Regions from separate parts of the Homo sapiens genome. Here region 2 is linked to region 1. The links come from fine-mapping of genetic effects on plasma protein levels. A gene starts in region 1. The other region holds a variant in brackets. All regions are shown on one strand. Distances are between the middles of the regions. Region 1 holds the start of SEMA7A (semaphorin 7A (JohnMiltonHagen blood group)). Region 2 overlaps CCDC33 (coiled-coil domain containing 33).

Region 1 (15,880 bases):
GAGGGAGGGGAAGGAGCCAGGCCAAGATGAAAAATTTCCAGTGTTCTCCCAGGCAAAGCAACAGCGGGTCCCTGAGTGCTCCCCACATATCATCGTTGTGCCTGCTGGTAGGCTCAGCAGGGAGCCGTGTCCACTTAGGCGAACGCATCCTCCGAGGACCATAGTCCTCAGGGTGCGAACCACTTAGCTGGCCATAGCAAGGTTGTTGGGTGTTGGACTCCTCTGCGCCCTTGGAGAGAGGTCCTCCACGACTTCTACGCCAATCTTTTTACGGGGTGCGGGGAGTGGAACTGAGGCCCAGAGAGGGGATAGGGCCTGCCGCCCCTGGCAGAAGACCACAAGTCTGGCTTGTCCGCAGCTGGGCTTTCCCCGTAGAGTTGCCCGGGAGAGGGTGGCGAAGGTTCCCCCAGCAGTTCCGCTCTCGCTCAGGAAAGCCAGTGAGGCGAGAAAAGGCTGCGAGGGGCGGGGGGAGGGGCGGGGTGGGGTCAGCGCTGGCTCCGCCTCCTGGCGCTTGGGTCTGCCTGCGGCCGGGCGCTGGCTCAGTCTCGGCTGATTGCCGCTGTCGCTCCCGGGGCCACGGGATGACGCCTCCTCCGCCCGGACGTGCCGCCCCCAGCGCACCGCGCGCCCGCGTCCCTGGCCCGCCGGCTCGGTTGGGGCTTCCGCTGCGGCTGCGGCTGCTGCTGCTGCTCTGGGCGGCCGCCGCCTCCGCCCAGGGCCACCTAAGGAGCGGACCCCGCATCTTCGCCGTCTGGAAAGGTAGGCGGCGCCGCGCGGCCGGTCAGGCGCGGGATCAGACGCTGCGCGGGGCGGGTGCGGAGTGTGCTGCACCCGGAGGGAGTGCGTGCGCGCAGCTCTGCGGGTCCCGGGCTGTCCCCGCGCTGTCCCCGCGTGGAGCGTGTGGGTTTGGGTGAGTGTGTGTGAGTGTACACGCTGGCACACCAGAGCCGGCTGTAACGCTGCGGCGAGCGAGCGGCGGGGGCCGGAGCCCCGGCTAAGTCGCACCAAGTCCCTGGCAGCCAGGAGCCGCAACGCCCGGGCGCCAGGGGAGGGGGCGGGCCCCTCTCTCGGCCCCGAGCCACTCTGGGTCCTCTGGCTCGGGGGCTTCGGCGGAGGACCTTTCCCCGCCTGGGACCCCAACCCGGGTACCCTCCTTTTGAGCTGCGGGCTCTGCTGGCGCGCGGGGCGCAGGCTGGGCCGGCAAGGGGGGCGCGGACCCCTTGCCGCCGCCGCCGCGCTTCGGCAGCGGGAACAAAGACCCCGCCGCCTGCCCCCGCCCCCGCCCCGGCCCGGAGCTCGGGCCAGGCAAGGGGGTGGGCATCCTGCAGCGAGCGGCGGGACATGGTGCGGTGCGGCGGCTTGGGGTACCAGGGCGCTGCCTCAGCAATGCCGGGACCGGCCGCTCCCCCCTTGCCCGCACGTGGCAGTTGTCACCAGAAATCGGCTCCAGCGTTGGGGGGCAGTGCCCGTTGGGTGGGGCACGGCCGTTGGGACCCCCAGGCGGTGGATCTAGGGCGGGGGTGCAGCCTTTAGGCCAGGGTAGATAATAAGAACCTGGGGGACTGGAGTCTCCCCCAGGGCACCTCAGTTTAGACCCTGTACTATGGGACAGAAAGCCGGTTAGGCGGGGGTTTGAGGCTTTCTGCCGCGAGGAACTGATCTCCCCTCCCCTGCATTGCACACAAATGCCTCCCCGCCCCCAGTCCGATTCGGCTCTGTCCCCAAATTTGGCGTGTCTGCGGCCCCCCTGTCGTGATGGTGGGGGACTCGCAGTGGGGGCTGGGGGAACTGGTCGGGTCTGGCCCCACCGGGAGCCTTTTGATGCCTTTGGCAGTTTGCAGGGATTGCGGGAGTCTGAGCATTATCTGGGGCAGGTATTATTAGCAGAGGGGAAAAAAAACCATACACAAAACGAGTGGCCCGAACTGCCGCAGTAGCTGAGGGAATGTGACTTGCCCAAGGTCACTGAGCAGTGTGGGAGCCCAGGTGCAGGCAGGGGCTCTGATCTGGCACAGGACCAGTCCAGGTTCTGGGTTAGGGAGGGGAGAAGGATTTAGGTGGTTCAGGGACCATGAATGAGGTGCTCTGGGGACCAGCTCGGCTACCCAGCCTGAGGTGCTCCTGGAGGAAGCCGAGCAGTGCTGCTAGAGCTCCGGCCGCCTGTACATGGAGGAGGCCTGCACACCCCTCTGCCATCCCAGCTCCAGCCCAAGCTTCCTTTGCCCTCCCAGCAGCTTTGCCTTCCCTCAGTCTCCTTGGCTGTCTTGGACATCATAGCGTGTGGGCACTCTGGAGGGGACAAATGGCCACATCTGAGTGTTCTGGAATCTTTCCCTCCATCAAACCCCTTGCATTTTGACTCTGTTTGCCTGTCCCAAAGTCTTCCCATGACCCCCCACCCCCACCCCACTTAATGCACACCCACTTCTTAGCACTTAATGCATACATCCCATCCTGGGCACTTAGTTCCCACCCTGAGGCTATTTAAAGTTGCTTTCAGTCCTCTTACCCACTTTTCGAAGCTCCCAGCACAGCTCCATGGCCTACCCCCCCGCCCGCAGTTCACTGCTGTAGCCACACTGGCTGTGCCCTCTGCTTAGTAATGCACTGTTGAGCCCCGCTGGCTGGGGTCTGCCAACCGTTCACCAGTCTTGTCCAACGACAGTCTGTGGTCTCCTTCACCAGTGCCAGGTGCCCCACTGGCCAGACAGGCCCTGCCATTCACCTGCCCCCCACCCCCAGGGCCACCAGCTGGTGATGGTGTGCCCGACTGACAGCTGCCTCCTGTCTCCTGTGGGGTGACACATGGCAATCGGACAGGAATGGGCTTGGGTAGGACAAACCCAGGAACAGGGTAAGAGGGGGTCTTTCTGGAAGCCTAGAGCTCTGTCTACCAGTGGTGGGTGGGAGTATGGTGGTATCCAGGAATGACAAAATCAGGGATGGTGGTGGTTCTGGAGCCATTTCTCTATGAGGCATAGATGGGGGTTTTAGTTTTGAGTCAGGACAGCTGTGGGGACTGGAATAGGTATGGAAAGTTCTTTATTTTCTGCTGCTTGGATCCCCAAGTTCTAGAGAAAGATTAAAGCAGGGAACTCTGAGAGGGGCCCAGCCTGCACTGATCAGGGAGATTGCTGCCTCTGCAGCTTGATGAAAGTCTGGCACAGCGTAGCTCAGGCCAGGGAGAGAGATGGGCCATCATGTACCTGCTGGGTGTCCTTGAGCTCCACACTTGTCTTTGACCCTTAGAGCCTGCCAGAGCAAGAAAGGCTGTAGGGATTGTCCCCCAAGGGCTGTCACTGACACATGGGCCAGTCAAGGATGTGCATGTGTGGTCCTGATCTTCCTGTAAGCAGGAACTGTAAGGGAGTAGATTGCAGGTGAGGGCTGGGGCTTAGCAGGAGGTTGGCATGCGTTTGTAAGCTGTGCACCCCTCTTCCATTTTATCAGTGGTTGGAGGAGCTAAAGAAGGCTTGGAACCCCAAGGTCAGAGGTGAACCAGCCTGTCCATGGGGAAACAGAACCCATATCCCCAGTCTCAACCTGCCCGGCTGGTTCTGCCCTCCCTCGCTTTTGTCCAGTGAAACAACGGGATGTTATTGTTGACTTGGTGGCTGCTGGGGAGCCATTCTGGGGCTGCTCCCCAGGGCAGGAGGTTGTTGTTACCTCCTCCAGGGGATGAGGTCACATCTGGGGCTTCCCAAGCATCAGCATTTCCAGTGGAAATCCTTGCCCCCTTGGGGACTTAGATGTGTTCATCACCTTCAAGGTGAACTCCCTCCACAGAGTCTCATGGTGGGGGGGCAATTCCCCGGAGGAGAGGGGGAGTTTCCTAAGCCAAGAGAGATGCTTGGTGAGGTCACCAGGAGCTTCCTACCAAGCTCTGTGACCCCTCTGTCCTGGACAGTGAAGATTCTGAGAGCAGGTCCGGTGGAATGGACGCTGGCACAGGTCCAATGATGACCATGGTATAGGGGAGAGAGCTGGGAGGTCGGGAGCCTGGTTCAGGCTGTGACCTAATTTGCTCTGTGACTGGGCAAGTCTTTGCCTTTTACTGAACCCCAGTTTCCCCAAATGCCCAAAGAGGGTAGGGGAGGGGGCTCATCCTTTTCTGAGATTTAATGTCTTAGGATTTCTCTCTCTCTGGGATGGGAGGGGCTGGGCAGAGTCTGTGGTGGCCTGTTTAAATCTTAGATTTCGAGAAATCTGGAGGAGAAATTGAAACCTGGGAAGTCAGGGGAAACCCTTAAGTTCGCGTTCTTTCCTATCTTTTTCTCTCGTGGGCCAAAGGCTGAGGATCATTTGGAGGAAATGGATCATCAGCATGTGCCCTCAAGGGTGGACATATTCATTCAGCAAACATTTGCCGGGGCCACCCTTGTGCTGGTCTTGGGGATGAGCTTGGGGATCTGGTGATGAGGAACAAGATGATTCCGTGCCCTTGTAGACTTCTCAGTGTAGATGTAGATGGGCAGATAAACCTGCAGGTACAACAGAATGTGTAACAGAGAGCAGTTATGGGCACTGAGGAGATGCCTAACCCAATTTTCCCAATCAGGGAGGGCTTCCTGGAAGAGGGAGCAAGCTGAAATGGCAGGAGGAGGAGCCAGCTGGGGGAGGGAAGGAACAGGAGGAAGCACCCCACTTAGTAGGATTTTAAACCCAAGAACTTACAGCTAGGACCACAGAGAGGAGAGAAGCCATGTGAGGGGCCCCCATGTGAAGAGGCGTTGAGTCAGCCTGGGCCTGGGGGCTCCCGAAAAGTTTGAAACTTGTCCAGATGGGCATAGGTGAGGGGATACCTGTCATCCTATGACTGGCGCAGCAGTGAGGAGGAAGGACGCACCCACTGGAGAAGGGCCGTGGCAGGCAGGGAAGGCCTCTCGAGTGCTGGCAAGGCCATAGCCCCGTCACAGTTCCCTGGTGGGAGGCTGGCTCTGGGTCCAGGGAGACCATGGCTTTCCCCATTGACTCCTGACCGCAGGACAGTCTCCAGGTGAGAAGGTCTGTCCCTCAGCTCTGTCTTCTCCTGCTCTTCCTCTGCAGAGATGGAAGGAGCATGGAGGTGGCAGGGTGGGGGTGGCATGGATAGGTCACTATCTGGGCTGAGGGTGGCGCCCTGGGGGAAGCAGGGAAAGCTGGGCTCTGTTTTTTGAGGAGGGCCAAGCAAGGTGGGATGTGAAGCTCAGCCCAGGGGGCAGGTCTGGCAGCCCTCAGGGGGCAGTAGCTGGAGTAGATGGGCCACTAGCTGATAGCCTGTCCACCCCCAGCTTCACACGGCTCTGTCACAAGAGACTGACTGCACTTCCCCTGCTTTGGTCGGCAGCTCTGGACTGAAAAGTTTCCACTTCTCTTGATTTCCTTTTTTGGCCCAGCGTGGCTGCCCCAGGAGCCTTCCTTCGCCATGGTTGGGGGAGGAAGGGGCCCTTAACCTGTCCTGCCTTCAGAAGAGCCAGGGTTCCGTACCCTTGCAGGGAGGGCCAGCCACCAGGTGTATGGCCAGCTGTCCTGTCCTCAGGGAACCAGGCAGGCCAGAAAGAAAGCAGGGGGATGGAGGGCCACGGCACCTTGTTGGGCCCTGCCTCCTCAGAGGACAGAGTTCCCCCTTCCCTAGCCAGCCAGGCCTTGAGGGACTGTCCCCTCTCTGCCCCGAATGGTATGGGGTGGCTCTCCAAGCCCTTTATTCTCCCTGGCCCTGGCCTTGCCATCTCTCCAGATCTGTGCCCAGCCTCCCGGAGGACCTCTGTCCCTATGCTGCACCCCATCCAGAACACATGGCACACAGCTGCCGCCTTCCCCAGGCCCTGCATGGTGGCCTGGCCCCACTGCCTCCTAGACTCCCACAGTTCTTCCCTCACTGCTCCCTGGCTCCGCCTCCTCTCTGCACCCCACTCACCCTCCTCCTCCTTTCTGCCCAGAAAGGAGGCTGCTGGTTCTTTCTCAGTTCCTCTGAGGAACCTTCTTGGATGACCCCAACCCACACAGCCTGACAGCGCGAGCTTAGGATGTCAGAAAAGAAATGTCAGAGATTAGCTGGGCCAGCCAAACATTCCACAGATGGGGAAACTGAGGCTCAGAGATGACAGGGACTGGCCCGAGATCACCCAAAGAGGCAGAGCTGGGACCGGGGCTGAGTCGTCTGAGCCTGCTTCTGCCCCAGCTCTCAGCCTGTTTCCAGCTTTCTGTCTGCCATCATACTCTGTCCCAGGCTGGGGGCCCCTTCAGTGCCTTTCCTCCTCTGCTAGCCCAGTTGGGCCCAGACTCTTCCCGCCCCAGTGCTGTCTGTTCCCAGGAGCCACACCAGCTGTGAGTGTCCTCTCTTCAGGACCTTGGATTTGGACCAGCTCCATATACCTCTTCTGGTCTTTCCTCAGGTGGGTTGGGCCTCAGGTCCCAAGGACAGGTTGATCTGTGTCCCGGCTCGGGCTAATCAGGTTTTAACTGTCATGACAGCCTGGGATTATGCTGATCCTGCCATGCCTTCTGCACCCCATGCTTCCAGCCAGAGGCTTGGGCTCTGTGCCAGCACCCCTGGGTGACCCCTCATCATGGAGGGCAGCCAGCCTAGGTCTGTGTTCGGCTCCTCTGGGGGAGAGGCAGGAAGAGAAGCCCTGGGTTTGCCCTTGGGGAGCCCCCACATTCCTGGAGAGGTGAGTCTTCTGCCTGTGAAGTAGGGCGGACCCCTGGGGAGGTCAGGAATGACCTGCAGATGTAGCCTAGGACTGTGACAGGAGGTGAGAGCAGGAAAGGTCAGTGTGGGATGGTGCAATCAAGGAAGGCTTCCTGGGGGAGGAGGAGGAGCCAGGCTAGAGCTAGGGGCAGGAGCATAGGGTGGGGGCAGAGTGCAGCATAGACAGCTATTCATATTGTTGTTTGTACAGAGTCTCACGCCTGTAATCCCAGCACTTTGGGAGGCCAAGGTAGGCAGATCAGTTGAGGTCAGGAGTTCGAGACCAGCCTGGCCAACATGGTGAAACCCCGTCTTTACTAAAAATACAAAAAAATTAGCTGGGTGTGGTGGCACACGCCTGTAATCCCAGCTACTTGGGAGGCTGAGGCAGGAGCTCTGGCCCAGCCTGTCGAGGAAGGAAGGTCACTGTGATGACTTCTGCACTCCATTGGTGGCCCAGGAATCTGTTCTAAGATACCTGTCCCTCTGGCATGGGAGTTTGGCCTGCCCCAGTCTTGCTTCTCTCCACTGTCTGAGCTGCTCCCTGGGAATGGAAGACTTGGAGCAAGAGGAAGCCTGGTCCTCACCTTCAGGGCCCCATAGGCCAGATGAAATCCCATCAGACAGCATGATCTGAGCGAAGATGGTGGTGCCAGATGGTTTGTGGTACAAGGTCGAAGGTACGGGCAGTGAGGGCTGGAGCAGTCTGGAATACTTCCTGGATCCAAGGGATTTAGCTACATTTTCAAGGACAGGTAAGATCCATGTGCACAGAGAAAAGGAGGAAGGTCAATCCAGGGAGGGGAGAACAGGAGCAAAGTGCAGAGATGGAAATGAGCCATGGCAGAGCTGTGCAGAGATGAGGTGGGCCTTGACTGCCCTGCCCTGAGGTTTTGGGCCCTGCTTGGATGGGCAGTTAGGAGCCATGGTGGGTCCTTGAGCTGAGGAGTGGAGGTGAGTGTTTTCGCCAGGGCTGGCTGAGTGGGGACCTGGCTGGTGAGCACACTCTGCCCTTCACTGTGGTCAGCTTCAGAGCATGCAGTACTTTTTTTCTTAGAGACAGGATCTCACTGTCTCCCAGGCTGGAGTACAGTGGTGCATTCATAGCTCTCTGCAGCCTCTAACTCCTGAACACATGTGATCCTTCTGCCTTGGTCTCCCGAAGTGCTGGGATAACAGGCATGAGCCATGGCACCCGGCCCCACAGAGTACTTTATGTTCTGAGCGAGATCTTGGGAGACTTGTCTTTCTAATCAGTCACTCAGGACCGGGGCCCCACGCTGCACCTCGAGAAGATTCCTGCCCCACTGTTGTAACTTAGGATCTTTAAGATGGAGAGCACCTCTTCCATGATTAAGAGAGAGGCAGGTGGAAATAAAGATTTTGTTACTAACAGGTCTTGAGGGATACCTGGTGTACCTGAAGCCACACACAGGTGGAGGTCAGGGAGCATGTGCAGGGTGGGGGGATCTATGGGCCAGCATCTTTATGGGGTCCATGGTGTTATTAAAACAAGTTTTCCACAGGGAGTTTGTTTTGTTGTTGTTGTTGTTTTGAGATGGAGTCTTGCTCTGTCACCCAGGCTGGAGTGCAGTGGCGTGGTCTCAGCTCACTATAACCTCTGCCTCCTGGGTTCAAGCGATTCTTCTGTCTCAGCCTCCCAAGTAGCTGGGAGTACAGGCGCACACCACCATGTCTGGCTAATTTTTTTGTATTTTTGGTAGAGATGGGGTTTCACCATGTTGGCCAGGCTAGTCTCGAACTCCTGACCTCAAATGATCTGCCCACCTCAGCCTCCCAAAGCGCCGGGATTATGGGCATGACCCACTGTGCCTGGCCTCCATGGGGAGTTTTAATTGGTGGGTTTACAGCAAGCAGTCATGAGTTCCAGGAGGTCATGTTGTGACTTGAGACAAGGTCACTGGCCTATCTGCACAGTCCATGCGGGCTGTGGGACAAGGTCAGCAGGACCAATCAAGTGGGCTGTATGTAGCCATCCCACAGGGAAGCAGTCACCAGGAGACGACTGTCTACGGTAGATATCTGGATTGAGCACATGGAGGAACTGGGAGGAGGTGGGGAGCTGGAAACGGTGTCAAGGTTGACTGAGCCCTGCTTCTAGTGTGAGAAAACCCAGCTTATATTCAAAACGGATGCCAGGGCAACATCAAAGCATAGGAATTCACTACATTCACCTGGGCCTGCACACCTGTGCTCACTTGCACACACTGTCTTCAGGGTGTTACGGGCAGAGGTCAGGACTTCATTAGCCAAGTAGCCTCTAACTGGGCCTCACCCTCGGTAGGCTTTGGTCTCCTCATCTGTCTGGGAAGGGCTGACCTTGGAAGCCTCCAAGGGCTCATCTCTGGAATACGATGTTATAAGCACAGATTCTGGAGTCAGCTTGCCTGAGTATGAACCTCTGCTCCACCCCTTACTAGCTGTGTAATGCTGGGTAAGTTACTCAGCTTCTCTGTGTCTCATGGTCCTCATCTGCAAAATGGGGATAATAAAAGAACCTACTTCATGAGAGTTCAGTGATGATTAAATGAGTTAATATATCTAAAAATCATTTGGAATAGTGTTTGGCACGTAGTAAATGCGATGGAAGGGTTGGGTGGTAGGGGCATCATCATCGTCGTCATCATCTTCCTCCTCCTCCTCTGGCATCTCTGGTTTCTGATGGAATGCAGCCCTGGCAGCCCAGCCCCTGCCAGTTCTCCCTAATGGGCTTTGCTGGCTGGCTGCCCTTGCTCAGTCTCCCCTGCTGGTTCAGGCTAAGGCTAAGACTGGGGAACCTTCTGTTTCTCAGCAGTCTTCCACCTGCCTCCCTCCCTCCACTTGGGGTTGTGTAGCCATTCTCCGCCCTCTCCCCGACCCCTGCCCTGGCTGTGGGCCCAAGGGCAGGCCCTGCACCGCTACCCTTTGTCTGCTTTGAAGGAGCCACCAGCGACTTCGGCCCCACTCTGGGGCTTTTGGAACCTGCTGGGCTGGAGAACAGCTGGAAGGTAGATGGGACATGATGTTTGTCCTGGGCTTCCGGCCTTCCCTGGGCGTGGGCTCAGGGCATCTTACCCACTCCAGCTGGGCCTCAGTGCCAGCCTTCCTTCCCTGAGTCCCTGAATCCTGCTCAGCACAGCCTCTCACCAAGGGGCTTGCTTTCCACACTGTCCCTTCTCCCTAGGACTTTGCCCCAGACAGTCTCCCCAATAGCCAAACCTTCTTCTGGTCCTTTGAGCACAGTGGTGCCATGGGGAGAGCATCCAGACCTTGGTGGCTTGGAAGGGCATTAGTTTTCCTGTTTGTAAAACGGCAATACAGGTTGTCCTGCCTTCTTTGCAGGGTGGCTGGAGGTTTGGTGGGCTGGTCAGTGGAAGCAGATGAGAATGTCAGTTTCTTCTGCTGCCTCCACTTCCAGAAAACTGTCTGACTTCTCTGGCACTCAGAGAGTCACACTTTCCCAAAAAGACCCATGGACTTCACCCTGATTGTTTTGTGATTTGTTTCAAGAATCCTGGTGGGTCATAAAACCCAGGCCCAAACAAGTACCAGCACCCACCCTGACTCGCACCCAGCTAATCCACAGGGAGGAAAATGAACCCAGGAAGGCCCAGCCCCAATCACCGTCACAGCCAGCCAGCTGTCCAGCCACCAAAGAGATAATGAGGCTTCTTGGAGCCAGGGCTGAGCCACACATGAGATATACTCCCCTCCCACCCACAGCTGACCTTGGTGGGTGGGAGGATGCTCCCCTTTGGCCCAGCACACAGCTCGCTCTTCTCATAGCTCATAAACAAGTTAGACTTCTCAGTCCTCCATGAGCTGAGTGCTGTCTCGAGGCCCCACCACCTGCCCCAGCACACAGGCTCTGCCCCTGCCAGGCGACTAGCTAATCTAGAACCTAACCCTGCCTGAGAGTTGCCAGGACCCACCTGCAACCATGACCTATCCTTAGCACCGAGCCGGTGCCACCCTGGAAACCAGGCTTCTCACACCCTCTTCCTGGCCATATCAGGAGAGACAGAAACATTTGTTCCTGTATTCCCACCCCTAGTGGAAGGGTTTCCTCTACCACTCTGACATGCACGGCACCTACACTTCCACCATTAGTCACTCCTTTGGATTTAAGGCTTTGATCACTAAAGGCCCCTAGGAGATCAGGGCCTCACCTGGAAGGTGGGTGGGCGGGTGATTCCCTTTAGTTATCAGGTTAGTGACTCGGCACCTAGTGAGCAAGAGAGGGAAGGGTAGAGTAGGGATGATTCAGGGAAGTAGGGAGAGGCTGAATATACAGCTTTTTGCAAATCAGAGGCTCTCCAGGAAGCCCAGGATGTGATCCTGGAGAGAAGCAGCTGGGTAATGGGTACTGGAAACTTGGAGCTTCCCTCGCTCTGTGTCCTTGGGCCGGTGGTACAGCCTCTCTGGCCTCTGTGTCCTTCAGTTCAATGACTGTTTAGATCCTCTCCCTTCCACCTTGACATGTGGATGTGGGATTCCAAAGGGTGGAGAGGCTGCAGGCTAATTCCTAGGCATCACGTGGGCCTTCCCTCTACTCTCTTTTCCAGACACGTAGTTGGGCGAGGGTGTGAGGTAGGCCTGGCAGTGCAGGGGTGGGGGCACAACTGTGGGAGGACGCTCCTGCCAGATGTGCTGGCTCTCCAACCTGAGGTCGGCCTGCTTTCTGCTCTTTGGCCCGGGGCCTCTCTGACTGCCTGACTTAGGCATTCTCTGTGGGGGTGCCCACATTCCTGCCATTTTCAGAGCCTGACTCTCTGCCCACTTTCAAAAGGCTCCTTGAGGTTACATTCAAGGCCCACTGGGTCAGTGGGTCAGGTTGCAAGGCTGGCTTTGCCAGACCAGAGCATGGGACCCAGCCCCTTCATGGACAACAACACCTCCCACTCTGCCCTCCCCTGGAGCTGCACTCCTCTTTCACAAACAACAAGAGTATGGGGACAGCGGGCCAGACGGTGACAGCACCAGAGTGAATGAGAAGAGGAAACGTGCTCCACCAGGCAGGCCTGAGTTAGGAAATGCATGCCAGAGGCCCAGACTTGCCACAGTCGGTCAGCTGCTGGGGTGGTGATCGAGGGTAGGGTCCCTAAGGAGTCAGGCCCCATTCTTTCCAATGGGATCAGAGCCCTGTGAGCACCCGGCCCTGCGGCTGTGTCTGGTGGAGGTTATCTCCTACAACCCAGCCATCCTTGCAGCCCTCCTATCTGGCCGGAGCTGGGCCTTGCTGGCCCTGCCACCATGAGAAATGGTACTCAGGGGAACTATGGAGTCCGGCTGGGTACGGGGCAGCCTGAATGTGCTTTCTTGGTCCAGCACGAGTGAGGATTGGCTCGGAATCACATGGGGCGGGAGGTGGGTTGTCTTGTTCCTGGCCTGCCTCTGGGCTATGCCCTCCCCATATGTCCCTAGCCCCCTCCCCTACCTGAGCCCCTGGTTATTCTGGGAGCTTTTAGCTACCACTTAGCCACTAATGCGTCAGGCTGGGGAGTGAGGGGGGGACACGGTGCCAGACGGTGCTCCTTTTAGACAAGCAGGATGGGAAGCAGGGGGAGCCAGGAGGTGGGGGACGCCAGAGGATGGGGAGGCATTTTCCACTCCTGGCCCTGCTCGTAGGTTCAGGCAGCAGGGGAGAGTGGTGGGCAGTGGGTCAGTGTGTCCTTGGACAGGCTGCATCTTCCCTCCCCCATCACACGTGGGCCTCAGCTCACCTTCCCGATTCTTCTCATTAGGACTCTGCCAGGCTGCAGCGCATGGCCTCTGTCCTCCATACAGCCACCTTCCCCACCTTTGCTCAGGTTGCGTCCTCTGCCTGGCTTTCCCTCCCGGCCTGTTCAGGGCCCATCCAGCTTTTATCTACCTCACCTCTCCGTTTGGGTTCATAAAGCATCACAAAGAAAATGTTCAGGGATATGATACATACTCCCTTGGCCTGGCCTTTTTAGGGGTAGCCCCTGGCCTTGCTCAGCCCCTGCCTGGGCAGAGACTCGAGGCCTGGCCCTGATGGCTTGGTGCTGCCTTCACTTCCAGGCAGCCCTCCTGCCCCTTAGCCCCCAGCCCCCGCTCCTGCCAACCTGAACAAAGCTTCCTTTCATGTATTCATCGAGCTGCTGCTGCTCGACACTTCCCGGGCACAATCAGGCCTTTTGAGGGCCTCAGGCGGTGCGGGAGCCCAGGCTGGGGCTGGGGTGGAGAATGGGCCAAGGCCTTGTCCTGGGGCTGAGCTGGTGTCATTCCCTCTAGTCCATACGCATCACCAAGAACAGAGGTGGGAGGGCCAGGAACCTGGGGGTCATGGGAGGCCGTGGTCCTGGGCTCCTGTTCGTTTTCCTGCAAAATGGGACGAACAGTCCCTGCTTCCTCCACCCTAGCCATTGTGGCTAGGGTTTGAAGGGAACTGGGCTCAGGCTTGCAGATCCGCATGGGATTGTCCGGGCCCTAGTGCTGCAGCTCCTACCCAGGGGCCAGCAGCCCTCACCCTCCCTTCATGTCTTCAGCAGATACTTTGTGGGCAGCCCTGGGGTCCATGCTAAGACAGTTTTGCTGGAGAGCTGTGGAAGTTTTCTGTGGTGTGGCTGTCTGACCCCTCAGATGTATTCCCAGGGTAGGGCCAGACCTCCCCCTCAGACCTTGCTCTCCAGGACCCAGTCATGTCTCTGCCATCAGGCTCGACTCCCCAGGGCAGGACTGTTTTCCTCTTCTCTTCAACAGCCCTGCAATTCCTAGACCAGGGTGCCCCCACCCAGAGTCCTGTCTGGTGCCTCTTTTCCCTTGAGTAGTTGTACATTGGCCTTGCCGGCCCCCTCGGAGACCTGGGCCTGTGGCCTTGGTGCAGGAGTGGGGCTAAGGTGACTGATGAAGGTGGCTAGCACAGTCTGACGGCTAGAACTTTTCTGCTTTGACTCCCAGGGACTATGGATCTCAGGTCCTAGCCCAGCATCTCTAGATGCAGACACGCACCTTTTCCTGGCTGCCAGTCTGGCTATCGGTGGATGGGAGGGGAGCAGGAGGGGAGTTGGGGCGGCAGACTGTCTGGATCTCTGGCTGGGCCACAGAGGATGGTGGCTGCAGTTTGGGCTGCGGGTGGAAGGGGAGTTACGGGAGCTGAGTCAGGAAGACTGTGTCTGTGACCCCAGCACTCTAATTTTATCCCAGGAAGGGAGGGGGAGCAGGGCAGCACCCAAGACCTGCCAGCTCTCCCTCCCTCCCACCGAAGTGCCAGTACCTCTCAGCCCTTGCTCTGCACATCTCGGGCCTACAGGGAGGGAGGCTTGGGGGCCAGGGAGGGCTGATATCCCCGGAGCTGTTCAGTTGGGCTGTTTGTGATGTGCACCAGGAGAGCCACACCACCCAAGGACAGTGAGCTCAGCACTTCTCTCTGTAGCCTGCCATGCTGCTGAGAACTGATACTGCAGCCTGGGACAAGCTAATGTGTCCTGCCTGCTGGTGTGACCTTGGCATGTCTCCCAGGGTACCTCAGCATTCTTCTCTGCACAGTGCGCCAGGCCACAGAAGAGGTGAAGAATGCTCACTTCCGGGGGTGACCTGGCCATGAAGGGATGTTTCTTAAAGAATGAAGGTGTGGTGGCACAGTGTGTGGTCCAGCTGCTCCTTGCCCCTGTTAAATGCAGAATCAATAGGGATGGCTCCAATGGGAATAAGAGGGATCGGGGGCAGAGTTGAGGAAATGGTAGTTCTTTTTGGTCAGAGCTGGAGCTTGGGTGTCACTGCCAAGCTGGCTGCCCCAGAGTTTCCTGCAGCTGAAAAAACAGTGGTCAGACCCAGTTCCTAGGTGAGGCCCAGGCTGGTCAGAGGTGGGAAGATGCTGGGTGTGGCTGATTGCTGGGGGCACAACCACAGGCCATCCCATCCCTATAATTTACTCCTGCAACCAGGACAACCTCAGCAGTGTCACTGGAGATGAGACACCTCCCCAGAGGCAGTGGCTGCAGTCAGTTTCTTTTTTGGGGAAAATTTTCCCGGTCAGCCCTTCTGCTGAAAGTCCCAGGCTGTGCTCTGTGAAGGTTCCCCTGTCCCAGAGTTGCTGGGGAGGAAGAGCCGATCTTCACCCCCCGGAGAGCTAGCATCCTCATGGGTGAAACCAGGCCAGAGTGGGCCATGGAATAGAGTCCAGCTTGGTAGGCAGGAGTGCAGGCTCTGGTTCAGGGTCTGCTACTGACCTGCTTCCGTGTGCCCTTGGGCTGCCCCTCCCTTGGCCTCTGTTTTCCCATCTGTGAAATGGGACGGAGTAGATGTTGAGATTCCTTTCCTCCTCTAGTCTAGTGCTCACTAAGGGGCTGGGGATGGGCCAGGAGAGGTTGGAGAGGGATTCCTGAAGGAGGAGAAGGGGTTCTGAGCATTGTGATTCCTGGGAACCTGGACTCCAAGGGGGGTGCTTGAAGGCCCTGCTGCCTGCTGAAAGGCCCGGGGTTGGGGGGCGCTGCTTGCTTTGGCTTAGGGCAGCAGAGAACCTCCCAGAGCATGGCCAAGGAGCCCTGGTCCTCCTGCCTTAGCCCAGCCCTCAAAAGTGTGTGCCAGAGGAGGGGGTCTGTTCCCCCAAGAGGTCCCTAAATCCTTCCCCACTCTGAGATCACACATACTGTGAAGGAAGGAGAGGCTGCCACACTAGGGGAGGGGCCGTGCTGTGGGTGAGGACAGCTGGTTGCTGGAGCCCACCGGAGGATCTCTTACTTCTCCTGTCCTTGACTCTCTGAGTCTGGGTACCACCCCAGCCCAGAGCTTGTCTGACGCCCTGCCAGGACCCTGAGCACCAAGCACTGGTTCCAGTGTGCCATGTGGAGGGGACCCAGAGTCTTCTCTCTCGGGACCTGGCTTCAATGTTTCTACTAATTGTCTCCTCCTCAGGCCATGTAGGGCAGGACCGGGTGGACTTTGGCCAGACTGAGCCGCACACGGTGCTTTTCCACGAGCCAGGCAGCTCCTCTGTGTGGGTGGGAGGACGTGGCAAGGTCTACCTCTTTGACTTCCCCGAGGGCAAGAACGCATCTGTGCGCACGGTGAGCCTCTCTCTTCCCCCAACACCCCCCCTACCCTCTTATCTCCCCTCTGGCCCTGCCAAGGGTCCTCAGGGAATCCGAGGGAGCTGGCTTCTCTTCCTAAACTGCCCCCACCTCCGTATCCTATAAATGGCTCCTGGGGGAGGCTCCCTAAAGGTAGTCCAGATTGGAGTGGGGAGCT
Region 2 (15,880 bases), 160 kb after region 1:
CACAAGGTCAGGAGTTTGAGACCAGCCTGGCCAACATGGTGAAACTCCATCTCTACTGAAAATACAAAAATTAGCCGGGCATGGTGGCGGGTGCCAGTAATCCCAGCTACCTGGGAGGCTGAGGCAGGAGAATTGCTTGAACCTGGGAGGCGGAGGTTGCTAGTGAGCCAAGATGGTGCCACTGCACTCCAGCCTGGGCAACAAGAGCAAGACTCTGTCTCAAAAAAAAAAAAAAAAATTCAAGACTGCCTTCCCTAATCCAGGCTTTACATCCCTCTCCTCTGATTAAAAAAAATTTTTCGCTGGGCGCAGTGACTCATGCCTGTAATCCCAGCCTTTTGGGAGGCCAAAGCGGGTGGATCACCTGAGGTCAGGAGTTCGAGACCAGCCTGGCCGACATGGTGAAACCCTGTCTCTACTAAAAGGATAAAAATTAGCCAGGCATGGTGGCATGTGCCTATAAGCCCAGCTACTCGAGAGGCTGAGGCAGGAGAATTGCTTGAACCCGGGAGGCAGAGGTTGCAGTGAGCCAAGACTGCGCCACTGCACTCCAGCCTGGGAGACAAGAGCGAGGCTCTGTCTCAAAAAAAATTTTTTTACTGGGTTAAAATATACGTAACACAACATTCACCATTGTAGCCATTTTTAATGTACAGTTCGGTAATGTTAAATGCATTCATTTGTTCGTATTGTTGTGTAACCATCACCACTATCTATTTCCAGGACTTTTCATCACTTGAAACGGAAACTAGGTACTTATGACCTGTAACTCCCCATTCTTCCCTTTCCCCAGCCCCTGTAGCCACTGTTCTACATTCTGACTCTGAATTTTCCTATTCTAGGTATCCCATATAAGTGGAATCATATATTTGTCCTTTTGTATCTTCTCCTCTGATGTGATAGCCCTGACAGGCCCTCCCAGTTTGTTATTAGATTATACATTATCTTGTGTTGATGTTCAACTTTTTCACCCACGTGACTCCCATCTTCACCAGACCAAGAGTTCCTGGAGGGCAGTTTCTCTGCCGCACAGGCGAGCACAGCACTGGGTATGCCGTGGGATTCAGTCAACTCTTACTCGATAGTCAAGGGAACTGCTGACTGACTCACTGAGTGAGTGAACAGTGAATGTGTGGGGTAGTTACAGGAAGCTGGAACCACTGGGGAGGAGACATACCTGAGGGCATCCGTTCTGGCTGACGCGAGGCACGTCAAAGTTCATCATGGACGGGATAGGGAAGGACAGTGGGGTGATGGGCAGCCCCACAGAGGCCAGGTCCCTGTTAGCCTGGCTGACCCTGGGGAGGCAGGGAGACAGGGTCAGTGCTCTGGGCTCTGCACCTGAGCCTGGCAGCCCAGGGCCCCCCGCTTAGACTCTGGGTTGATGCAAGAGAAGGGAGTTGCAGGGATCCCGCCGAGTTCGGGCCTGGACCTCACGACAAGTGGGGACCACTGGGCTGGGCGTGCATCAATCATCTTCCTTCCTCCAACAAGCAAGGGGGCTTCATAAGTCATAAAAACTCAACAGGAGATACAGAGAAGTAGGGGAGTCATCTTGGGCCATCAGGGCCAGTTGGAAGTGACCAAGACAGACCCTGACTCCCAGGAGTCGGTGCTGTGGCAGAGAGCACACGTTCATAGGGGAATTTCCCACTGTGTGGCAAAGTATGAATCTCCTCTTGAGGACTGTGACTCCAACAGACTCAAAAGGAGGTCTAGGGGAGGAGGGGATGAGTTGTGGCTGGGACCAGGGAGACCTCCAGGATGAGGAGGGAGGAGACTCCGCCCGGCAGGGCTAAAGGCTGTGAAGTTCCAAGATGGCCTTTGGGGCCAACCACTGGCTGGAGCCTGTGGCCCTGAGCTAGAGTGGGAGGGGGAGTGGGGAGGTGGTGGGTGTGAGGCAGGGAGGCAGGTTGGAGGGGCTGAGGTTCCCTGAGCAGGGAATGAGGACCCCTCTTGTTGTCCTCCCCACACTCTCTAGCTGTTAGGCCTGGTATCGGCACTCATCCCCACCACCTGCCCTCCAGCTTGCTCTCAGGAGAGGACTGAGCTGCCCCTTTCCAGGGGCCTGGGCTCTCCCTGGGGAAAGAAAGGCATGGTCTGCTGCAGGAAGCTTACTGGGACCTCAGACCCAATGGAGAGGCTTGAAGGGCCTTAGGGGTAGAGGGGTTGCCGGAGGTCCTGGAATCAGCCCATGGCAGCAATGACAGCCTCACCCCCTCCTCTGCCCTCTGCTCTGCCCTCCTCACCCAGGTCCACCTGGGCCCCACTCACTTAAATTCCTTGTAGTTGGGAACGACCCGGGCAATCACCACTATGGGGTTGGGGTTGTTGGCCAGGGGCTCGTTGACTCCCCGGAGAAAGATCTGGAGAGGAGAGGAGAGGAGGCAGGTGAACACCATGTGGCCTTGGGACCTTCCAGAGACAGCCAGCCAGACTGCCTACCCTCTTTTTCCCCATCCGTGAGCTCATGGCTGCCTCCACACTTGACACCTGCTTCTCCCTGTTCCCTGCCTTACTCGGTTCTTGCTTTGCACCAGGCTGCCCTCCCTCAGGAAGCCTTCTCTGCCGAGCTGAGGCAACTGCTCCCGCTTTCTGTCCTGGGATTTACCAATGGATCTCTTACACTAGTTTCTTTGGGGAGAAAGGGTACGATGAGAGTTGGGTCCTGGGAAGGGAGGTTGTGTTCTAACCTCGGCCCCTCCACTGGCTCCTGGGGAGGGGTTGGGCTAGGGGTAGGGCTAGGTGTTCCAGCTCCTTGGTTTCTGTCAGTCAAATGAGGCTCCTCCCAGGGCTGTGAGGGGTCTCTGATTAGATCGTTTGTGAGAGAGCACTTTATAAACTGAAGACAGGAAGCCCAGGTCTGGTTTCTCCGACCATGCTGAACTTCCTGAGATCAGCGGCCACAGCCAGGCTCCCCTTGCCTCCCTCGTGCCCATCACCCTGGTGCCTGCTCCACTGCTCACCCTGGTGCCTGCTCTCCTGCCTTGCTGGTTTCCCCAGGAAGTACTGGTTTGGAACAGGATCATAGCATCCGCATCTCTGGGCTCCTCTTTCTTCATCAGATCCCGGTTGTCACTCCCCTGACCGCCCTTGGTTGTTCCCTCCTCAGTCCTCTGTCACCCCCTAAAGGCTTCCCTGCCTCCCAGTCCTGACTGCCCTCTCCTCTACTCCAGGCTTCTATTGGCGCAGCTTTCAGAGAGCCGAGCGGGGTCCCAGCAGGAGGTTACAAAGCAGGAGTGGACAGCGTCACCTTGCTCCAACCCTCACTGACCCCCTGCTCAGTCTGGGCCTGGGGGACACTGGAAGGCAGACAGGGGAGACAGGGAGTCTGTCCCCATGCGCCTCTGCTGCCAGCCTAAGAGGCCCTGATCTCCCGGACCCTGACCCTCACCCTGTATCCACCAATGGCTCCCACTCTCCCTCAGCCCTCACCCACCTCCCACTCGGCTCTCATTCCTCTTGCTCCTTCGATTCCTCTGCCTCCTCACTAGCCTCTCCACTTCTGTTCCTTTCCCTAATCCATCCTCTTTCCCAGGCAATTTGACACATGATGGCAAAAGTGCTCTTGTTAAAAATGAACTGGGTCACGTTATTCCCTGCCCGACACCCCACAAGCCCCTCTGCCGTGTCTCCCGACAGGCCCCCAGCCCCTGTCTTCTTGCTCCAGACTCTTTTACTCCTGCCACTTACCCCTCTTATTTCTGCCACAGGGTCTTTGCACATGCTGATCCCTCTACTCAGACTCCCTGCAGCTCCCACCAACCCATTGTGGCTGGCGAGGGCCCAGGAGTGAGGCTTGTTCTGGATCATTCTCCCTTTTCTCCCTCCGCACCCTCCTTTCAGGCTCCTCTTTCAATACCCATCTCAGCTGGTTTTCCCACCTCTAACCCCACACAGGTGTGAGCTGATGGGCACGTACAATAGTCCTTAGGGCCTCGCAGCTCTCACTGAGGGCTCTGGAGACTGAATCCCTTCATCACATTCAAAGGATTGAATCTCTGATGGTACATTTCACACTTTGGATGGGTCTGGGGTCTGGGGCTGAGGGATTTCACTGGAGGCTGGCAGGCCCTATTGCTCACAGGCTCCCCAGCAGGTGTAAGACTAAAAAGGGGGTGGTGGCAGCTAATTTGCACCTGTTCTGTGTGGACTCTGATCAGGTGTGAATGAGACAGCTGCCCAAGTACACCTGCTCATGACAGCCTGGGAAGTAGCAGAAGTTCCTGCTCCTGCCATGCGCTCACCATCAGGAGCAGGCAGCTGCTCTGTGGCCATACCTGTCGCACGGATGGAGAGGGCATCTGTGCTGGGGCAGGAGAGTGGGCAGGGTGCTGTGAGCCAGAGAAGGCCCCTACTCTACCGCTCTACCAGGCAAGTCAGAGGGCTGGGTGGGGTGGGGCAGCTCCACAGCAGCCCTAAAGTTCTGCCTGTGTCTTGGGGATGTGGCCTCCTCCCTGTGGGGTGCGGCCTGGGGACAGCAAGGCCAGGCTGTTGCCCCTCTTCCTTGTTCTGTGTGTGTGTGAATTGCTGGCTGTCCTCAGGAAAGGGCGTGATAGAAGGTGGCGGGGAGCAGAGGGCGCCTGTAGGTCTGATATGCTGGCATCAGAGGGGTGGCTGTAGGGGAGTAGAAATGTGGGTTAGGAGTTTTGGCTCCCATACCATACTCCCCTTGGGTCTCAGTGTCCCTGGCTGTGAAAGAAGGCAAAAGAATGCTTCCTTCCCTGCCAGGCCCACGGTGCTGGTGGGAAGTAGGGGGGTGGGAAGGATAGGAACAGATCAGCCATGTTTGGGTAGGTGGAAGCTCAGAGCTTGGGTCCTGTGGCTCCCACCCTGATCATACTCAGGCCATAGCTGAATTTGAATCTGTCACCCATGGGCAGTTTGAAAGTTGGGGGGAATGGGAGAGGGGCCAGGTCCCTGCATCATGTCTGCTTTGAGCATCAAGAGTTCCTCCCAAAGCTGCTAATTGGCCTAGGGGGTGGATGGTGATGGGTCAAGGGGCAGTGGCCAGGCCCAAGGTGGGCTCAGCCCTGTCCTGGCTAATGGAAGAGGCTCTGTAAACAGTTGCTGGATGAATAAATGAATGAATAAACTAAATACCTAATCGCCAGACCAGTCAAACCTCTTTAGACACAGTGCTGAAGGAAAGCTCAAGGAGGCCCTAAACTTTTGCTTGGGGGCCAAGGCACTATCCCAGGAGGGGAAGAATAGAGCAGGAAACTGCTGGGCTGTGGGCTCAGGGGGAGCACGGGGCTTCTCCCCTGCCCCTAGCATAAGATTCGGGGAGACAGGCTCTGGTCCCCACTGCAGCACAGAGACGGTACACCAGGAGCAGCAGTGTGGCTGAGCCCCTCCCCGCCACCTCCAAGACAGAGAGGGAAGGAGAAGAGGCTTGAGCATCTTCATCCTTGTCATCCCTGCCAAAGGGCTTGTCTTCACAACTCCTTTTGCTATTTTGGAAAGGCCTGGTTGCTTTTTCCATTCTTGACATCTCTGCTCCACACCCTCAGGTCAGCCAGAGGGGGCTAAGGGCAAGGCGTGGGGCCTGCTCAAAGCTTGGCCCTTTCCCACCCCCACCACCACCCCAGAGGGCCCCAGCCCTGGTACCTCCAGAGCCATGTGGTTGCAGCCGATGTAGCGGGGTATGAAGCTGCTCTTCCGAACGACTGTTGCGTACAACTGGGTCTTGGCAGTGGCTTCATCGGCTTTCCCAGACTCAGTGGGCTGGAGACAGGGTTGGGGCAGAAGACACAGAGGAAGGAGAGTGTCTAAGGGGCAGATCCTGGCCATAAATCCAGCCCTCTGCAGACAATCACTTGGCATTGCTCCGCTGGGGCTCCGAGCTGATAATTAAAGCTCATGGTCCCTGTGAGCCCTTCCAAGGAGATCAATATAATAAATCTTCCCTTTTCCATTTGAATATTTCATCACCCTCACAAGGACCACTGCCTGTCTGCTTTCCAGTAAAGATGTGATAACAAGGCCTGGGTTGTAAGTGAACAGACAGCCAGGGGGCCTGGGTGATGCCCCCAGAATTACAGCTCAAGTGCTGAGTCTCCCAGGGTGAGTAGCACATCTCTCTTTTACTTCCCTGCATGGCCCATCCTGAAGCCCTGGGATTGGGGTTCCTCATGGGGCCTAAGAGAAGGTAAAGCCCCCTGGTGCCATGATTGAAGAAATGCTTAGAAGAAAGTTCAGTGCTGGCC[C/T]GGAGGAGGGATGGGGGAGGGTAACTGACCAAACTGAGCACCTACTGTATGCCAGGAACCTTGCCTATCATTGCTTGAGATCCTCAAAACGACTGTGCCAGCTTTGCCAGTGAGGATGGAGGCCTGGGGACCAAGTGGCTTCCATGGGTATCCAGCTAGGAGGCAACAAACTTGGTCTAGGACCCCCGACAGTCTGGCTTCACATTGTTCTTTACTCTCAACCACTTTCAGGGTCTGGAATGCACAGTGGGGAGGGGAATGTGATGCTTCTGTTCATCTCTGGCTCACTACCTGGCACATAGTAGGTGCTTCATAAGTCCTTGAGCAATGAGAGAGTGAATTCTACCCCTTACCCTTCAGCACTAGGAGGGAGGACAGGCAGGGGTCTGGCCTGGGAGGCCCAACCTTGGAGTGAGGAGCCTCAGGCCCCTCAGTCCATGGCTTGGACCCAGTTGCTCACTCCAGGGGTGCATTCCAGGGAATGCTTTATTCCATGTACCCCCCAACTCTCCTGGGCCTTCTGGCCAAGGCAGCATGTGGAGGCAGCTCAGAAGGAACTGGCTTGGGAGACAGCATGACTTGGGCTCACCCTCAACTCTGCCGCTCACTTGCTCTGTGACCCAGGAGGAGGAGATTTTTCTCCCCAGGTCCCAGTCCCATGTCTGCAAAATGTAATTTACCTTGAGGATTAGAGAGGGGGTGTGAAATGTCTAGCACAGGGCGTGCAAGCAGCGGGTACTCGGTAAATATTGTGTTTCTTTGATTTTTAGATCCGCTCTTTTAACATTTTTGTAATCAAAATCTATCTTTAATTGGTATATTCATTTAATGTGGCAGTTGTCCTATAATAATCAGCTGTTTTTACAGAGATGAATTTGGAGAATTCCAAATTCTTGTAGACACCATTCCTGTGTATGTACCAGGAGCCATGTTTCCTGAGCCCCACATGGTCCTAGACTTGTCATGCTGTGGGTGGGTGTGGGATGCTCAGGGCTGCTCCGAGGGAATAGCTGGGGACATTCAAGGTGGTTCCCACCTGCTCTCCCGGCACTTCCCCAGGCCTCTGACTCACCTTCACCAGCTCAAAGTGGTAGGGGTGGAAGACACGCAGGTACTTGATGGGGATTTTGTAGGACAACAACTCCTGTTTCTTTCTGTTGTCCACCACCTTGAGGATCACATCTGGAAAGAGAAAAAATGAGCCCAGGTTTATTTTTAAATGGATCCCTTTCTCTCCCAGTAAGGAGAGACAGTGAGAGGTGAGAGACATTGTTGAGAGTAGGGAGCAGGGGCCACACTGAGGAATCAACATGCACACACATGTGTGGATCACCCCTGTGCACACAAACCCACAAGCACAGTCTGAGCCCCTGCACAGGGCAAAGCTCCATGCCGGCAGCTGTTAGGACCCCAACATGCAATTTTCTCCCATGGTCTAGAAACTCCCAGGTCAGAGATAGACACACACAGAACTGAGTCCAGTCCCCTGTGGCAACAGACACACATGTGCACACACTGAGATACACAGGCAAGCAGGCATAGCACCTCTTTCCAGGAATAAGACTCTTTCCCTTGGTCACAAACACTTATGCCAGCTCTTGAGGCAGGATGGGGAGAGATTATCTCACACATGTTGCAGGTGGGGAAACTGAATTTCAGTAAGAAAAAGTGATCTGCTCAAGGAAATCCTTTAATACAGCTATCAATAAAAGTCTACTACAAGTAAGGGAAAACTAGTCTAAATACTAAGAATAATGCACCACTTAGTAAACACCCTCCAAAGAGACTATATTTTCTCATAAAATGGCATGAATATTGGTATAAACTTTTTCTTTTGAGACAGCGTCTCACTTTGTCACCCAGGCTGGAGTGTGGTGGCATGATCTCAGCTCACTACAACCTCTGCCTTCCAGGTTCAAGAGAGTCTCCTGCCTCAGCCTCCCAAGTAGCTGGGATTACAGGTGCCCGCCACCACACCCAGCCAAGTTTTGTATTTTTAGTAGAGACAAGGTTTTGCCATGTTGGCCAGGCTGGCCTCAAACTTCTGACTTCAAGTGATCCACCCGCCTCAGACTCCCAAAGTGCTGGGATTACAGGCATGGGCCACCGCACCCGGCCGGTAAAAACTTTAAGAAGAACACCAATGTCCTATAAATAATCATGACAGTCCTGTTTAGTGAGCGGGACTGTCATGATTATTTAGTGAGTATCTACTATGTGCCAGGCATGTCTCAGCCATGATTCCAACAAATTCTCACCACAACCCCCCGGGTAGGTATCATCATCTCTGTTCTTAAAATATGAACAATGGAGCTCAGAGGGTTATATAACTTGATCAACATAACACATCTAGAAAGTAGATGATAGGAAGGGTTGAATTTGGTGACACTTGAGGCATCTTTATATTCTGGAAGTCTATGATTTCAGGAGGAAGAAGAGATGGGGAGGGAGAAAAGGAGGAGAAGGATAGAGGAGGGATGGAGAAAGAATGAGAGAGATGAGGTAAGAAAGGATACAAAACAGAGAACAGGAAAGGGAGGATGGGGCGGAGGGGTGTGCCTGAGGGAAACACTTGGGGAGACCCTTGCCCTCTGCTTCTCTTGAGACAAGGGGTTTCAGCACCAGGGACAGCAGCTGGCCCTTGAGGGCTCAGCAGGTTCAGCGGGCTCAGCCGCTGGGTCATTTGGAACTGGATGGGTCATTTGGAACTGGATGGGTCATTTGGATGTTGGGGTGGAGAAGGAAGCTGAGGGCTTTATTAAGTATTCTTCTTTCTCTGTCTTCCCCACAGCGACCCTGAACACTTGCCAAGGTATCTCAAGAGCTTGTCATATGGGATCCATGCTCAAAGGAAAGAAGGGGGAGAGGGCACTGAAGGTGTTGAGGTTGGCTTGAAGAAGGGAGATTGAGGTAAGGGATATGAAGTCAGCAGACCTGGGTTCTAGTACCAGAATACTAACTTGCTCTGTGACTGTTAGCAAGTAATTTAACCTCTCTGAACTTCATGTTTCTGCTCTTCAAAATGTCAACACTTTAATAAAAAGCCTTGTCTCTCCCCTTGGGTTGTTGTAGGGAGAAGAGTGTGTTTTCAAGCTGTAACATTCTGTGCAAATGCTCCTCGTGGTTGTCACTATTTTCCTTCTCTTTAAGCATCTGCAGCTCTCCAAACACAAACCCTGATGTAGGCAGACCTGAGGAAATTCAACTGGGAGATTCCAGTGCTCCCAGCCAAAGCACCACGAGGAGCTGTGCAGGCTGAAGCCCCTTATGCCAACTCGCCATGGACCAAGAGTCCCCAGATCCAGTTGGGATTTGCCAAGGTTGAACGAGAGGTGAGTGCCGTACATTTTCCCCACCCGCTATTCCTGGAGCTCTGTGTGGGCAGCCAGCAGATGAGCTGGAATTGGGGGTAATGGACAGCCACTCCTCCCTGCTCCTGTCTCCATGCTACAAACACACTTCATCAGCTTCCTCTCTGGGCATTGTGCCCTTCCGGCCTCCCACCGTTCCCTTTGTGTGGCCAACAAGCTATTTCTGCCACCCGCCTGCTTTGGCCCTGACACAGGGTCTGAAACTCCCCTTTGCTTTTCATTAACACATCCTTGAGCTACCTCCCACCCTTCCCCCGCCTCTTGGCCTGGCCTCCATCTCCCCCACCCCCACCGCAGACATCACCACAGCAACCGGTTCCAACAAGCATCCAGCTACTTCAATCTGCAATGAGATGCCTGCCAATATTCCCTGCCTGCCCATGAGGCCTCCCCACTCTCTTGTCCCTCCTGCAGTTAGTCCTGCCCCTCTCTCTGCTGCACAGATGGGCCCTGGGGTCACTGACCTTATTACATTTTTTCCTCTGTTACCCCAAGTATGTAGAGCCCAGGGCAGGATCCCAGCTCAGGTCCACTCATCATAACCTCTAACTTCCCACCAGCCACATAAATACATGCATGCATACACACAGAGCCACACACACGATCTATACATACTTGTGCACTGCAAGGCATACACCACCATCCAGATTCATCCAGACACACATATAACCACACTGTTGCAGCTAGACACACCCACGCGCACACACACATAAGACACACAGACATGCATGCCTACAAGTACAGACACAGCACACACCACATTCACACATGCGCATGAACCAGCATGCAGGCATTCACAAAGACATGCACACACAGGCACGCATGTGCCTCTGCATGAAATCCTAGGTCAATTTTTCCTCCTCTTTTGCATCTTCTTAAAGCATCCCAACAGCTCCACCTATCCCTTTACAGGCAGAAAAGAAAAATTATCTGGCTTGACCTAGAACTAGCTCCTTCCCCTTTTACGGAGGCTCCCCTTCCTGTTTCCTTTCTCCTCTCCCATAGTCTTCAGCTGGCTTTCTGCTCTGTGTGAGGAGAACAAGGAGATCTGTCTAGGTCCTGGCAAGATTTCAAGGGGGAGAGGCAAAGCCTGTCCTCTCAGGGAGAGACCACCTGCAAGAAGCAAGTCTGAGGTCCTGACTAGATAAGATCAGAGACATCGCCAGGCACCTCCAGTCTGTGCTGGCAGTGCCAGATGCGATGCCCCCCTACCCGGGCATCAGCCAATCAGTATTCCCTTGTGTCCAGCCTGAGCTCCCCCAGGAGAATGGAAATCCAACAGACCCACAGTGTGAAAGTAAATATAAGTGTGCACATGCATGTGTGTACATGGGCACCTCGTGGCTCAGGCTGACACCTGGGGAGGACTAGGCAGGAATAGGGATCCATTCTAGGGACATTTCAAATATTTTTTAAAAAATCAAATGGAAGCAGCGGGAACCCTGGAGCTGCAGTAAGAACATGCAATGCTGAGTCCTTGGTCCTTGGTCTTAAGCTTAAGCCAGTTAAATTCCCTGAACCTCGATGTTCTCTTAAGCAATGGGAGCAGCATTGCTCCTCCTGGGAGGTGGTGACTCCAATGAGTGATGTGTGGGGACGTGCCAGGAAGCTGTAATGTCCTGTTTCAGTAGGAGACAGCGCTAATAACAGCCATGAAAATAATAACAACAGTCATAAAAAAGATAAGCTTGCATTGTCTGGAAAATTCATTTATGTGGAACAACTCATTTTTCGAGCAGGATGGGGAGATGAGGCGTGACAGTATTATGATTTTTTCTAAGTGCTTTTAACTGAGCCCAAGGAGGTGTTCAGGTGGCTACCAGCTGCAGTGAGAGGGAGCCTGCTTCTTGCTCTAAGTCCTTGGCTGTGTTCACACCCTGCCTGCACATGCCGGCCCTGCCCAGCCCCTGCTTACCTTCTTGCCCTGCATCCTCAGCTTGGATCTCCACATTCACCGTGTCCCCCCAGATAGGGGCTCTGGTGGGCTCTGAGGTCACAGATGTGACTGCCTTGGAGCTCTGATTGTTCTTTTCCTCAGATGTGCTTTTCCTGGGGAGAGCAGGGGCAGGGTGAGTCAAAGGGAGGGGTTCTGTCTGCTGCTTGTCCCCATCCCAGGCTCCACTGTCCATAAATCTGAGTGAAAGGTGGACAGAATATGGAGAGCTCTGTCCCATGCATAGACACTTGTGTCATCCCAGGCCTCTCCCCCAGCTCTCCTGCCAGCCCAGGTGACCACACTGTCTCGCTGGCCACTACTGAGGCCTTCACTTAGTCACAAGCCTCTCACTTAGAGAGGCTCAGGGCAGGGGTAGGGATGGGGGTAGAGGGTAGATGCTTTGCCCGCCTGACTTCCTAGCCCTTGCCAGGGAGGGCTCTCCAGCAGGAGCCCGTGTGCATGGCCTCCCTCTTCTCTAGGTTCTGTTTCGGTGGGAGGAATCCTCTGGGCAGAGTGGCTGTGCGATGCCCCGCCTGGCTGTCCTCTCTTCTTCACCTTATTTCCCTAAACTTCTGGCCCAGATTTCCAGGCTCCACCCGGCAATCCCAGTTCTAAATGCTTGCAATGAAGCACGCACATCCTGCTGCCTTCTGAGATGCCTGCTGTGTGCAGGGCCTTGGGCTGGGCCCCTGGAGCTGGAAACCTGGAGCTGGGTCCAGGCCTGGGGGCAGGGGGTGGTGGAAAGGGCTTTCCAGCCCTCAAGCACTCAGATTGTTCAGGACCAGGCTGTATAAGGTGAGAGGTAAGCTTGGGCCCTCTGCATCCCAGTGCACCCCACAGATATCGGAGATCCAGAGCCGTCAAACGGCTCAGGGAGAGAGTGAATACTTCTTCTGTAGAAGAGGTTACTAGGCCAGGGCCATCCCCAGCGCTGCTCCATTAACTGCAGCAGTCATGGGCTGAGGAATCATCCCAGAGATCCTGTAGCAGGGGGAGCCACACCACACACCTTGCGGAGGGAGGCAAGACGCACTAATGGTACCCCAGGATGGGAACAAAGACGTCATCCCCACCAGCCCTTGTTTCACCCTCAAGGACCCCAAAGGGAGTGTGGGGCAGGCCAGTTGGCTCAGACCCCACCTTCTCTGTGCATTAGCAATACCAACATGGTTCTTCCCAGCCCAGCTTGTTCCTCTCCTCCAAGAAGCCCTCTGGAGTCCCCCGGCCCTCACTGTTCCCTCTGCCCTTTAGACTTAAGTGACGCTGTGACCTGGCTCCTTGCTCCCACTCATCACAGCCCTGCTCCTGTGGGTAACCATGCTTGCAGGAGCCCTTCTTCTGTGGGTGACCATGCTTGCAGGAGTTCCATCTCCAAGTTCCAGGGGTCAACTGAGGACTCCTGCTGTGCTTTGACTGAGGCAGTATGACACAGTGATTGTAAGAAGGACCCTGCAGCTGGGCATTTTGGGTTCCAAATCCCAGCTCTACCCCGTGCCAGCTGTGTGATGTTAGGCAAGGTACAGAACCTGTGGTGCCTTATTTTCTTCATCTATAAAACAGAGATGCTAACGGTGCCCAGCCTGCAGGGCGGTTGTGGGAAGGAAACGAATGAATATGTGTAGTGCCTGGCACATTGCTAAGTACCAAGAAAGTGTTAATAATTCTTAGTACCTTAAATTATTAAAATATAAATATGATTCCTGTTATTACCCCATAGCACCAGAGAGCTTAGCCTTATTGACCCTCCTGTGACCAGCCCCTTTGCCGTGGCGTGATTTTTCCCCATCATGCCCCCAGTTCTGGGTCTACAATTGGGAATGTCTGGCTGCTCGGGCCAAGGTGTGGAATCCTGGAAAGAGCACAGGCTTGGGAATGATTCAGAGCTGGGTTTGGAGCCCGCGTTTATCCTGGCGAGATCATCTCCCCTCTGCACCTACTAAGTTCCTCCTTTTTCAATAGTACCGCCCTGAGAGAGTGTTATAAGGACTGGAAAGAAAGCATGTTCAGCTCCTGGCATCCAGAAAGCCCCAGTTCATGTTATTCCCTCATTTGTGATACAAAACAGCTTGGGTGTTTTTGCAAGAGGACCTGCCTGAGGGCAGCATGAAGGGGAAGGAGCACTGAGTACAAGCTGGGGTGAGAAGGGGCATCTCCCAGAGAGCCGGAGTCCTTCTCAGATGAGCGTCCATCCAGACACACCCCTGCAGGCTCTGCAGAATGGACTCCTCACACCCGCAAAGTGGTGTGTGGGAGGCTGCCAGGCTAGAGAGGGAAGGCAGAAGCCTGGCAGGAACGTGGCGCTCAGCTTGCTCCCTCCACCCTCGGGTCCCTTTTTCCCTCCGGCTCTGTGACCATGCTTGACCAAGGGGTGCAATCTAAGTACCTCCCATGACGCTCTGTGCCTAGGCTCCCGCTCCTGACAGCTGCCCCAGCAAAGTCAGAGACCTCAGGCTCTCAGCAGCCTCCCTGTGCTACCCAGCCACCCGATCTGCTACTTATAGATATATAGTTAGTGCACAATAAGGCCTCACAGCCTCCCTCCTCAGGGACCTGCACAGAAACAGCAGAAAAGCAGAAGCGCCAAGGGTGTGTCAGGAAGAAGTCAGTCCTTCTGCACCCAGATGTCAACCCCAGAGCTGGACACAAAACTGCACCTGCATGGACACATTCCTGGGGGATTCCCAGGGATCTTCATGTGGCTCTGTGTGCACAGAGAAGACACAAATGAAGGTGTGAAGTCACAGGCAACATAGTGACAGGATTCAGATTGAACCCCATGCCAGCCTGTCTTCTACTGTCCTCGTATCCTCCCAACCCTCCTGGGAGGGTGGCAGGAGGAATTCCCAGGTGCAAAGAGGTGGGTAAAGGTGACGGGGCAAGGCAAGGGAGCAGGTGCTGACTTTCCTCCAGCAGAGAAAGAGTTAAGCAACTATTTTCCCCACCTCCCTGCCCCATCTAATATGAAGGTCATCAGGGCTAGGTGAGTGCAGATAAAGCAACTGGGTGGGAGGGGGAGGCCCCAGGGGAAGGGGGAGGCTTTTAGCAGGTGGAGGGAGGCTCTCGGGGTAATGGCTTTTCCTGGCACAGCTGACTCCTCCGGGTCTTGATGCTATTCTAGAATCTGGAGAGCAAGAAGGGCCTCTGATTCTTCACAGAATAGGAGCAGGGGATGAGCTCACTCCCTGCTCCCAGCCCCATTCTGCACCCCGCAGATGGGCACGTGGCTGAGTTCCAGGTCCCCAGGCTCTCTCGGGGCTCCCAATGCAGTCTTAGAACCCAGGGGACCTCACCAAGACCTGCTTCCCTAGGCCTCTCCACAGGCTGTCTGCAAGGAGAGACCCCCCTCCCTGTCCCCCCAAAGACCTGCCCTGTTGACTTGGACCCGTTGGCTCCAGGCATCCAGGGCCAGGAGGAGCTAGTGGGTGGTGCCTGCTGTCTCGGGGCCAGATTTAATCCAGCCACAGCATGGGCAGCCATGCCAGGATAGGACTGGAGTTGGGTTTAGAGTGCAGCAGCCCTGAGACCAAGCTGCAGGAAAACATAAACCTCCCTCAACCTGGCCTACCCTCCAGGCTGCTGGAAGGGTGTGTGTGTCTTTGACAAACTCCAGTCCCCAGCTAGGCATTCCTGGGGCCCCCACCCCAGCAGGGTGTAAGGGGGCCAGGCTCAAGCACAGCTGTGAGTGGGAGGGAACAAGGACTTTGCTTTCCTTCTGCAAGGTCATGACTAAGGGAAAATATGTCATCTGGTTCCCGGGGGCTGCAGCTGTGAGTGGAAGAAATGAGCATCGGAAAAGCATGGGATTTGATGGACAGAAAGCAAGAGTGCTCATGAGCCGCTTTCCCCCTCACTCCAGGAGACACACACACACATCCACACATACATACACACACATGCACACACATGCGCACAAATGCATGCACACACACATACATGCACACATGCACGTGCACAAAGGCTGCCCAGAGAGGTGTGAGTACCATACTGTACCCACTCTTGTTACCCAGTCCTCAGGCTGCCTCTGGGGTCTTCTATTCACACCTGAGCCCACCTCCCCCACCTGCCCTGCCTGTCCTGTTGGCCTCTGGCTCCCTCAAAGCCTCAAATCATGAACAATAGTCAAGACCTGGCCGCCTCCTGGGCAGAGCTTTAGAAGCTGGGGCACAGGCGGCCTGGTTTGTTTTGAGTGCCAATCCCAGGACAGCCACCAAGAGAGCAAAGGAAAGGGGAGGGCCCTGACTCAGATCTGCTGTGGCTGCTGGGGTCTTGGCTGGGCAGGCTTGTAAATCCTGAGAGACTAGAGTGATGTTCCCAGAAGCCCCTGGCACTGGGGAAGTCAGGCAGGCACTGGGAATAGTGGATAA

The links. PIP is the chance, under the fine-mapping model, that this variant and not a neighbour inherited with it causes the effect. Sun 2018 read protein levels with aptamers (SomaScan).
Region 2: its variant is fine-mapped to the plasma level of the SEMA7A protein (Sun 2018, PIP 0.95).

Annotation. Positions count from the first base shown.
Region 1 is chr15:74,418,620-74,434,499 of GRCh38, reverse strand. It overlaps SEMA7A (semaphorin 7A (JohnMiltonHagen blood group)), which reads left to right and starts at 542. Exons shown (of 14, transcript NM_003612.5): 1 at 542-759; 2 at 15,548-15,699. The coding sequence starts at 582. RefSeq lists silencers at 400-909, 960-1,109, 1,260-1,379 and enhancers at 4,559-4,658, 4,699-4,778, 5,399-5,488, 10,382-11,012, 11,278-11,572 and 1 more.
Region 2 is chr15:74,258,189-74,274,068 of GRCh38, reverse strand. CCDC33 (coiled-coil domain containing 33) reads right to left here. Exons shown (of 19, transcript NM_025055.5): 3 at 11,496-11,629; 4 at 7,282-7,391; 5 at 5,611-5,727; 6 at 2,275-2,366; 7 at 1,178-1,298. Among named protein-coding and RNA genes, the nearest start is that of CCDC33, 30 kb to the right of the region's middle. RefSeq lists enhancers at 9,105-9,935, 9,936-10,768. The variant C/T (reference allele first, on the strand shown) is at 6,210.